Regions from separate parts of the Homo sapiens genome. Here region 1 is linked to region 2. The links come from fine-mapping of genetic effects on gene expression. Tissue or cell type: whole blood. Region 2 holds a variant in brackets; the other region holds the start of a gene. All regions are shown on one strand. Distances are from middle to middle.

Region 1 (5,648 bases), 82 kb before region 2:
AGGCGGATCACCTGAGGTCGGGAGTTCGAGACCAGCCTGACCAACATGGAGAAACCCCGTCTCTACTAAAATATAATATTAGCTGGGCGTGGTGGCGCATGCCTGTAATCCCAGCTACTCAGGAGGCTGAGGCAGGAGAATCACTTGAACCCGGGAGGCAGAGGTTGCAGTGAGCCAAGATCACGCCATTGCGCTCCAGCCTGGGCAACAAGAGTGAAACTCCGTCTCAAAAAAAAAAAGAAAAGATCTATTGTATAACATGGTGACTATACCCACTATGAATATGTATTGTATTCTTGAAAATTGCTTAAAGAACATATTTTAAACATTTCCAGCACAAAAATATGAGGTAATGCATATATTAATTAGCTTGACTTAGCCATTTCACAATGTATACATATTTTAAAACATCCTGGCCGGGGGCACGGTGGCTCACTCTTGTAATCCCAGCACTTTCGGAGGCCGATGTGGGTGGATCACCTGAGGTTAGGAGTTTGAGACCGTCCTAGCCGAAATGGCAAAACCCCGTCTCTACTGAAAACACAAAAATTAGCCAGGCGTGGTGGTGCGCATCTGTAATCCCAGCTACTTGGGAGTCTGAGGCAGGAGAATCGCTTGACTTGGGAGGTGGAGGTTGCAGTGAGCCGAGATTGAGCCACTGCACTCCAGCCTGGGCGACAAGAGTGAAACTCTGTCTCAAAAAAAAAAAAAAAAAGAAAAAAGAAAACATCCTGTTGTACACAATATATATTTTTTGTCAATTAATAAAAATCAATAAATTTAATTAAAAAAATAGTCGAGTGAAGTTATTTCCCATGACTAGCTCCTCTTCTTCCTTTAGATTTCATCTTACATGTCACTTTCTTGGAGAGGCCTTACCAACCTAACCAAAGTAGCTCCCCAGTTTTAATTTTTTTCACTGGGTTCCTATGCCTCCCCCACCAGTCTAAGAACTCCATGAAGCCAGTATGTCTTGTGTTCAGCACATAGGGAAGACTCAATAGGTCTTTGTTGACTGAATGAAATGAAAGAAGTCCTTCAACATCCTGCCCCTCTGCTCCCTCAACCCCCAAAGCACCAGTACTTTGTCTTCTCTTCTCTTGGGATGTAATGGAAGAGGAGTCTTCTACCAAGGCCGTTCTCTGCCACTTTCCTCAAGAAGCTCCTTGCCTCTTTGATTGATTCTCCTGTATACTCTTTTTTTTTTTTTTTTTTTGAGACGGAGTCTCGCTTTGTCACCCAGGCTGGAGTTCAGTGCCCCAGTCTCAGCTCACTGCAACCTCTGCCTCCCGGGTTCAAGCGATTCCCTGCCTCAGCCTCCCAAGTAGCTGGGATTACAGGCACACGCCACCATGCCCGGCTAATTTTTTTCGTATTTTCAGTAGAGACGGGGTTTCACCATATTGGTCAGGCTGGTCTTGAACTCCTGACCTCAGGCAATCCACCTGCCTCGGCCTCCCAAAGTGTTGGGATTACAGGCATGAGCCACCGGGCACGGCCCTGTATACTCTTCACTAATCTTTTCCTATCAATATGCAAAGATGTTTCCCTTAAACAACCAACCAACCACAAATCCCAAAAGTTTCTTCCTCTACCAGGCTTCAGATCGGCACATGACCGCCTTCTTGCCTTGACTTTCAGGAGTCTGGTATCCCCCGTATTCTTTTATCTTAGCCTCCTTCTCTGGCTTTTTTTTTTTTTTTTTTTTTTTTTTTTTTGAGACAGAGTCCAGTCCTGCTCTGTCGCCCAGGCTGGAGTGCAGTGGCGCGATCTCGGCTCACTGCAACCTCTGCCTTCAGAGTAGCTGGGATTACAGGCACACACCAACATGCCCGGCTACTTTCTTTGTATTTTTAGTTAGGGACGGGGTTTTGCCATGTTGGCCAGGCTAGTCTCGAACTCCTGATCTCAGGTGATCCGCCCGCCTCGGCCTCCCAAAGTGCTGGGATTACAGGCGTGAGCCACCGCGCCCGGTCTTCTGGCTCTTTCTAAAGATTGGGATTTCCTAAAGTCCTGTTCTTTTCAACCTCCATTGAAAAGTGTTGGGGTGGAGTTTGGGAAGGAGGGGCTGAGGAGTGAGGCTGGGTTAGGTGGGGAATAAAGAGAGGGATATGAGAAGCCCCGAGGTCTGGGGTCAAGGAGACAGGCGTGGGGGAAGGATTTGAACCACTGTTACGTGTAGTGGGGGAGACAGCAGGGAGAGCGTGCCCGGGCACGACAGCCTGGTGCACAGCCGAGAAAACAACAGCGCGTGCGCGTAGCGACCTCTTTGCGCCTGCGCCCCCCTTGCCAGTCTTTCGCCGGCAAAAGGAGGACGTAGAAAAGGGGACACCGGAAACTCACTCTTCACCCGGAAATGGTTATTGAGGAACATGGCGTTGCTGGTGCGAGTCCTTGTGAGTGAAGGAGTAATTTTCTACGGTAGCTCTCTGGGTCCCGGGTTGGAGTTCGACAAGGCAGGGCGGGAGGAATTGGAAGGAATCGCAGGAGGGAAGCCTGTGTTATAGCTAGGCTGAGTGGCCGCTTTTCCGTGGGGAAACTGAGGCAGCTTCCGACCTCTTCCTACCCCGTTTTGACCTTAGCTCCCCCATCTTTCGAGAAGGGGAAGACTGACATCTGGCCTTTATTTGATGGGGTTTACTTTTCCTTCCCTCCCCCATGTACCTGCTTCCCCTCAGGGAGAGGAGCATGTAGGACACTGATTGGAGTTTCAGGAGGCCTGGGTTCTAGTCCCTGACTGTCACTGATGCATAGTGACTTTAAGCAAGTCACTTTTGGGCCTCATTGACCCTATGTGAAAAACGAGGACATTTATCTCCTGCAGTCCCTTTAGATTCTGAGATTCTCAGGGTTTCTTTCATAGGTAATAAGTCAGTTCTTAACTGTACAGTTAAGTGGAATATAGATTATTAGATTGAAAGCTGCGTGAGAATTGGAGTCATGTCTGTCTCCGTCGTTTTCACTTTGCCTAGCATGGTGTCTGGCACATCATAGGTGTTAAATGATTACTTGTTGAATAAATGAATGAAGTAAGGAAAGACTACCAGACTCTTTAGCACCCGTGTGTGAAACTACTGCACCTCTTGAGATTTAGTCCTGACCCTTCTAGCATACTCTTTTCTCTAGCAATTAAAGGAGAAAAGAAAGTGGCAGCAGAAAAAACGTTAGGATACAGAGCTTAGTTTTTAATCATGGAGGGATGGGAGAGTGTATAGTTTTAGCGAGTCTTCAAAAACTGGGTCAAAGACACTGTTTTTCATAGTAGACATGGTCTATTCCTGTGTCTAGGTAACTTCTGAATTGTTATTTTACATTTGTGTTTTTGATCTTTTTATATATGTCTTACAAGGACGACAGTTTTACTTCTTGTATTCCTTGCCAGCCTAGCAGAGTGAGGTACCCTCGACTGCTGTTCAGTAAATATTTATTTGTAGAGTAGCCCCTGTAACTGCCAGAAAGATTCACCTGGTGAAGTGATTGTTTGATTTCAGGCCAGAAATTGATTCAGAAATGAGGACTGCTGGGGAAATGGCAATTAGAATGTTCTGAATTTAGTGGTTTTTTTTTTTTTTTTTTTTTTAATCCTTCCCCTGCCACCCTTTAGGGTTTTGTTTTTTTTTTTTTTTTTTTTGAGGCAGAGTCTTGCTCTGTCGCCGAAGCTGGAGTGCAGTGGTGCCATCTCGGGCTCACTGCAACTTCTGCTCCCGGGTTCAAGCAATTCTCCTGTGCCAGCCTCCCGAGTAGCTGGGATGACAGGCATGCACCACACCACACCTGACTAATTTTTGTATTTTTTTTTTTTTTGAGATGGAGTCTCGCTCTGTCACCCAGGGTGGAGTTCAGCGGTGTGATCTCGGCTCACTGCAACCTCTGCCTCCTGGGTTCAAGCAGTTCTCCTGCTTCAGCCTCCCAAGTAGCTGGGATTACAGGCGCCTGCCACCACACCTGGCTAACTTTTGTATTTTTAGTAGAGATGGAGTTTCACCATGTTGGCCAGACTGGTCTCGAACTCCTGACCTCATGATCCGCCTCCTGCGGCCTCCCAAAGTGCTGGGATAACAGGCATGAGCCACCGAGCCTGGCCTGACAACTATCATTTTATAGGGCACTTACTACGTGCTAAGCACTTTAAAATACTTACCTAATCCTTATAACATCCCTTTGGAAAGGAGGGCGTGTTATTTCCTCTATTTTACAGATAAGAAAACTGAACCACAGAGAGGTATTCCTGGCCAGGTGCCGTGGCTCACACCTGTAATCCCAGCACATTGGGAGGCTGAGGTAGGTGGATCACTTGAGGCCAGGAGTTCAAGACCAGCCTGGCCAACGTGGTGAAACCCTGTCTCTACTAAAAATACAAAAATTAGCCAGGCCTGGTGGTGGGCGCCTGTAATCCCAGCTACTCGTGAGGCTGAGACACGAGAATTGCTTCAACCCAGGAGGCGGAGGTTGCAGTGAGCTGAGATTGTGCCACTGCAGTCCAGCCTGGGTGAAAGAGTGAAACTCTGTCTGAAAAAAAAAAAGAAGTATTCCTGAAACATTCTTGTTAGTCTTGCTTTATTTTTTCCTCTTTTTGTCTTGTCAGCCAATATTTTCCCTTCTCCAGTGATGGTTTTGGGAAGGAGGAGGAAACTAAAACACTGCTATTGTTGAATGACTACAGCAGAGAGCCTGGACATTTGATCAGTGGAACTGGACATGCTTATGGTTTTTATGAGTTGTCCTGGGCATTGCTGATCATTTCTGCTTTTCTTTGGAAATAGTAAAAATTGCAGAAAGCCACCCTGTACTTTAGAAAATTAAAAAAAAGTTGTGGTAAAATACATGTAACAAAATTTACCTTTTAAACTTTTTTTTTTTTTTCTGAGACGGAGTTTTGCTCTTGTTGCGCAAGCTGGAGTGCAATGGCGTGATCTTGGCTCACTGCAACCTCTGCCTCCCGGGTTCAAGCGATTCTCCTGCCTCAGCCTCCTGAGTAGCTGGGATTACAGGCACGTGCCACTACGTTCAGCTAATTTTTTGTATTTTTAGTAGAAATGGGGTTTCACCATTTTAGCCAGGCTGATCTTGAATTCCTGACCTCAGGTGATCTGCCCGCCTTGGCCTCCCAAAGTGCTGGGATTACAGGCATGAGCCACTGTGCTTGGCCACCTTTGAAACTTTTTAAGTGTACAGTTCTGTGGTATTGAGTGCATTTACATTGTTGTGCCATCTTTACCACCCTTATCCACAGAATTATTTTCATTTTATAAAACTGAAACTCTGAACCTATTAATAACTCTCTATAGTCTTTTCTCCCCAGCCCCTGGCAGCCACCATTCTACTTTCTGTCTCCGTGAGTTTAACTACTTTGTGTACCTCATATAAGTGGAATCATACAGTATTTGACCTTTTGTGACTGGCTTATTTCATTTAGCGTAATGTCCTCAAGATTCATCCATGTTGTAGCATGTGTCAGAATTTTCTCTTTTTTTTTTTTTGGAGATAGGGTCTCGCTCTGTCATGCGTGCTGAAGTGTAGTGGCTCAATCATAGCTCACTGCAGCCTTGACCTCCTGGGCTCAAGTGATCCTCCCACTTCAGCCTCCTGAGTAGCTGGGACCACAGGCATGTGCCACCACGCCTGGCTACTTTTTTTTTTCTTTTTTG
Region 2 (5,648 bases):
GCTCTCAGAGTTTGGAGGACATTCTCTTTCTCGCATCTGTCTTATGTCCTGTGGGCTTAAAATAGAGCGATTTATTAGCCCAGCCCTTGCTAAGACCTAGGCATTCCCCAGGACTGACCATTTTCTTTGTAACCTGTCTGGTGTGGGGAGCTCTTCTTTCTCCAAGTCTGGCATTTTCTTCCTTGGCCTCCAAAATGGGGCTTTGGCAAAAGAGGCAGCACTTGCTGCCACCAGGTGAGCTCTGCAGAGCTGTCACTAAGCCAGGCCCTTCTCCAGCAGAGGACTCCTTCCCCAGCAAGAGTTCTACTCTGGCTCTGAGAAAAGGATACCGTACTGCATGTGCACTGCAGCCACCATGCCTTCCTGCAGGCTGTGAACCTTCTGTTAAAGCCAGCATGGGAATCCCATACCTTCTAGTCCTGTTCCATTTTCAGTACTTACCAAAGGAGCAAGAAGAGCTCAGGACCTTTCAGCTCTCCTTTACCCAGAGAGAGCTCTGTTCCCTTTTGGAAGACACACCTACCTTTGGCTTCAGATGTCCCCATGATGGAGAATCCCAGTTAGTACATGCACATACAATTCTGGGCCCAGGAAACAGGCCATTCCCCCAAAATCTAGTGAGGGCCCCTGTGTGTTCTGCTGTTCGCCTCTAAAGTGTGGCATTCAGTGCTAGAAAGTTGAGAGGCCGGTGCCCAGTTTTCCAAACAGTTCTTTTCCTGTCATGTGGTCTTTGGAGCCAGACAGACATAGGTTCTAATCTCTGCTCTGCCACAATGTTGCTTTGAGATCCTAGGCAAGTCTCTTTACCTCTCATTGTCTCCATTCCATCCTCTATAAGGTAAGTCACGCACAGTTATGTGACTTAAACAATATGGCTTAGCACAGTGTTTGGCACATATTAAGTACTTGATAAATGGGAGCTATCAGGATGCTGTATTTGGACATTTTCAATAGCACCTAGCATAAGCTGTCATATCTTGAAGGGATTTATAGGTGCATCTGTGACACCACACTGGATTCTGGCTTTCTGGAGGACAAAGATCCTATCTTTCATCCGTCTCCTGTTCTGCCTGGCATGAGTAAGGCACATAGCAGGCACTCAGTTGATGTTGGCTGAATCTTTTAGGATGACTTGGGCAGAGCAGGGTGGGCATAAATGCTTTAGTTTCTCCATCTGTGCCTGGGGAAATAGTAACCCCTTATTTTGGAGCCTTTGAGGACAATTTAAAACGATATGTGTGAAGTGTTTGGAGCCCTTTGAAAGGAGGGTACTGGAGAAATTAATGGTGTTTTTGCTGTTCTTGGGAAAGCCCTTTGTGGTTCCCAGTGAATAAATTACTTGGAGTGAGTTTTCTCACACCTCCTACTCTGCTCTGTTCACCGTAGCTTTTTTTTTTTTTTTTAAATAACTGTCTGCTGTAATACTTCTTTGCCCATGACTTATAAAGATATATATTTTTGGTGTTGGACTTTTGACCCCTTTCTGCTCCCAGGAGAGAAATTTTGATCAGAATAATAAAAGGTGTAAACTGTGTGTGTTGCCCCCTTTCCTAGGCCTTGGGCAGTTTAGCTGCTGGGGTTAGGAATCAGCTGGCTTGTGGTATGTGTATGGTTATGGGGCAAGTAGGAGATGATTCCTGTTAAGCGCTGAGCAGGCTTCTGTCTCCTGCTCTTCTTTTCATCCCTGTCCCATACCGTTTTGCTAAGATTCTTCAGATTTCAAATGAACCTTGTTGTCTTTGGCATTTTCGATAGGTGTTTGTGGCTATACTCCTTCTCCTTCAAAGACAGAAGGTGTTTATCGTCTCCTGTGCTTTAGGTCCCAAGGTGAGTTGGCTGCCAGAGAAGAGCCTCCCTCTAGAAGGACAGTGGGAGAACTGAAAAACACTCACCAATCTTGGAGCTACAAGAGTGGAGTTAGACTTAGTTCCACAATTAACCAGCAGGCTCCAATGCAGAGCCTGGACCAGGTTATTTCTAAGGGCCTTTCCTGCTTGAAAAAAAATCCATGAGATAAAAATTTTCCAGCCCAGGGTAGAATTTCCAAGAGTGAACACAGTTTGCAAAACTTTCTACTTTTCTCCAAGCCTCTCTTGCCCTGTAGCACTGGAAGAACTGGCTCCGTCCCTAATAGCCTCAGTTCAAAGGGACCAGAAGAGACTAGGGTAGTTGGGGACAAATGTGGGGTTCATAACGTACTAGGGGTATCTCGTCTGATGAAGTGGTTGGGTATGGATGTCAGAAGAATCTCACTTGGTGATGATCCTCAGGAACTATGTAAAGGAATTTTAGATTGCCCTGGCTGATGGCAGGAAGCCCCACCCAGGGCTAGCCCTAGCTGGTCAGAATTGCCAAGCAGTCAGTGTTTTTATTT[T/C]ATGCCATCTCCTAATCATTTCAGTGGCCGCCAAGCTCCTAGAAGCTTGACAGCCACAAAGATGATCCTAATTCAACCCTTTCCAAGTGAGGACACTCAGTCCTGGTCAGGAAAAAGGCTTGGTCAGTGTCATATAGTAGCGGTAGTAGCAGAGACTAAAACTCACTTCTCTTGATTGATTCTGTTGCTCTTTTCGTTACTTGATACTATCATCTTTGCTGTTCTCTAGAGCCACTACACACACCCTGCATTTTGTGTTGCTGGGAAAAGCCTCCAATCAAAGACCTCCTGATCCTTTTCTCTTAAGGTCAGCATTCCAGTGTCTAGCACAGTGCTTAGCACATGGTAAGCCTCCATCCAATATTGGTTGAATGGTGAATGAGTGAGTGAACTCACAGAGTCTATTCCTAACCCTATCTTCTTAGAATCAATTCTATACTTACACTGCAGTTTACCTGATTAAATTCATGCCAAATCGTTAAGGGTTGCCAACAGGATCTGTTTTAATGGTCCCAGATAACTCTTGCATTTTAACCAGAGTTTTCTGTAAATAGCGTCTTTGGAAAAAGCAGTGGTTGCAGTAGTAAGACATACAGGCACTGTGACGAGCTCTTGGGGTTGACTATGCCTCTCACTCCATGTCCTACCACAAGACTCTTTTCTCCTGTGGGCTTAACCCCTGCATTGGGTACCACCAGAGGGCAGTAGCTCCGCCAGGATCTGGGTGGGGCTATGTAAAAAAGTTCTGGAGGCTCTGAGGTCAGACCTAGGATACAGTAGAGACAGATGTTTCTTTCAGCTGCCCTGGGTGTGCCATGAGTATTTCTGGATCCATTGATGAGGCAGCTGTAACACTCTTTTCTCACTTTGTTTCCCCCAAAATGCTGAGTGAATGGCCCTGTGGGGTTGGTTGGAGCTGAAGGGGCCCAGCTAGAGTGGAGGGACTTGTTTTTCCATGTTCATTGTCCTCTCTTTAGCTGGTCTTTCTGAATGTCAGTGATCCTTGCCATCAATGTGACGTGCCTGGTTCTCAAAGGAGCAGGAGGAACTATAAGGAGCCCTTCTTTAAAACAACCACTATCAGGGCCTCAACTGTCCTACTGATGCTCAGATCCAGTCCTGACCTCTCACCTAAACTCACTGTCGGCTGCTTCTTCACTGGTCCTCCTGCCTCTTGACTCTCTTCATCTCAGATTCATTCTGCAAATCATTCAGCAGCCTGACTAATCATCCTAAACTCCCGGAGTTCGGGAATTGTCTCTTGTTTACTGCTGTAGCCTCAGCTCCTAAAACAGTGCTTGATGCCTGGGTAGTGCTGAATACATTTGATGAAGGCAATATTGAATGTATTTCCTCTAGATCCAGTAGCATTATTAATTTGTATGGTTTTATTAAGAATTGTTTCATTCATTTATTCAAGGAACATTTTTGTCTCTCGCCACATGCTAATCCCTGAATGTGGTTGGTAGATAATATACCAGAGATAAGTGATCTTACAGGGCTTACAATCTAGTTTATGCTGAGAAAGGAAGTTGAATCTTTCCTGGATTCACTTCCACACGAAACAGACGAACGAGAAAGATATGAGTTCACTTGCTTTTTTGTTTTGTGTTCACTGCAGGCTTCTTCCAGGAGTTATCCCAGGGCAGGGCTGAGTGTAATGGGAGGATGAGGCAGGAGAGTAGGTGAGCCCCAAGGTCCTGAGAGAAGCTTCAGAGACTTCCAGGCTCTCATCTCCAAGTGGGGGATTGGGTTGAGTTTATAACCTCCTTTCCAATGCAGTATCACAGAGTAGTTGAGAGTGCTCACATACTGAAGCCAGTTTGGACTCAAATCCTGCCCTAGCCATGTGACCTTGGGCAAGGTCTCTATGCCTGTTTCCTTTCTATGCCTCAGTTTTCTCTCCGTAAAATAGACATAACTGTAATACCCACCTTACATCGCTTGTAGCATTGTGAGGGATAAATGAGTTATCACATGTGAGGTTCTTTAAACAATGCCTGAGAGTGAAATAGATGTTTGCCACTACTAATTTACTTACTGTTAGGCATTTTCATCTGTTAATATGAAAAGGAAAAAGGAAAGGTGGTTTTGCATAGTTGTGATGGAAAAACTGAGGCTCAGAGTGATTAATCTTTCAGACTCACCAGGTGGGGAAACAGGGCTGTTGGGGCCCAAAATTTACTTAGATTTCAGTGCGTTTCCTAGGTCTGAGTTGGGACTTAAATACAGAACACCAAAGAGATCATCTCTTTAACATACAGCATTCTAACTGAGTTTGTCTCTTTCCTTTGGATAAAATACCTTTCTAAGAACATTTTACTGAGAAAAGAGGACAAAAGAGAATTACCCTATAAAGATGGAGTCACTCTCAGAACTCACAGGCTGTGTCAGTTCCATGCTTTTTTTTTTTTTTTTCCTTTTTTTGTGAGACAAAGTCTTGTTCTGTTGCCCCGGCTGGATTGCAGTGGCGTAATCTCACCTCACTGCAATCTTTGCCTCCTGGTTCAAGCAATTCTCCTGCCTCAGCCTCCCTAGTAGCTGGGACTACAGGCACCCACCACCATGCCCAGCTAATTTTTGTATTTTTAGTAAAGAAGGGGTTTCACCATGTTGGCCAGGCTGGTCTCAAACTCCTGACCTCAGGTGATCTGCCTGCCTTAACCTCCCAAAGTGGTGGGATTACAGAGGCATGAGCCACTGCACCCGGCTCTGTCAATTCCATTTTAAGGGATATCTGAACCTCACTCTTGGCCTCAACCTTGACCACCTCACTACTTAAGTAAGAATGATCATATGGCTTCTACCTGGGATCCAGGCTCAGCCATTCCCAGGATGCTTCTACAGGAATGTACAAACTATCCACTGAGTGGCAATTCTGTTTGAGCCTTAAAACAAACAAAAAAACTTGGACTAGGAGCCAGAAGACCTTGTCTCTGTGAACCTCTTGACCATTTATTAGCCAAGTGATAATTGGGTGAGTCACTTGACCTTTCTGAGCCTTTGCTTCCTCATGTCTTCAGCAGGGAACAGCCTCTTTCTCAGATAACCATTGGGTCAGTATTTTGGCAATTGTACAGCTCTGAACAGTGAGCAGTTAGGACACAGCAGTGAAAGACAAACATTCTGTGACCTGTGTGAAACAATGTAAATGTCTGCTTTACTGTTTTGAGCTTTAGACTTTGGTCTGACCCATTGTGCCCAGGTGGAGTTAGCAGTTAACTCCTGTGATTCAGTTCATTAGGGTGACCCCGCCCCTTTCACTCTTCATTGC

What was found. PIP is the estimated chance that this variant, and not a neighbour inherited with it, causes the effect.
Region 1: it holds the start of UQCC1, and the variant in region 2 is fine-mapped to the expression of UQCC1 in whole blood (TOPMed, PIP 0.90).

Annotation. Positions count from the first base shown.
Region 1 is chr20:35,408,688-35,414,335 of GRCh38, reverse strand. It overlaps UQCC1 (ubiquinol-cytochrome c reductase complex assembly factor 1), which reads left to right and starts at 2,363. Exons shown (of 10, transcript NM_018244.5): 1 at 2,363-2,396. The coding sequence starts at 2,373. RefSeq lists enhancers at 2,128-2,177, 1,385-2,207, 2,308-2,457, 2,518-2,617, 2,208-3,031.
Region 2 is chr20:35,327,156-35,332,803 of GRCh38, reverse strand. The region is part of intron 7 of UQCC1 (ubiquinol-cytochrome c reductase complex assembly factor 1); the gene reads left to right. Among named protein-coding and RNA genes, the nearest start is that of FAM83C, 38 kb to the right of the region's middle. The variant T/C (reference allele first, on the strand shown) is at 2,375.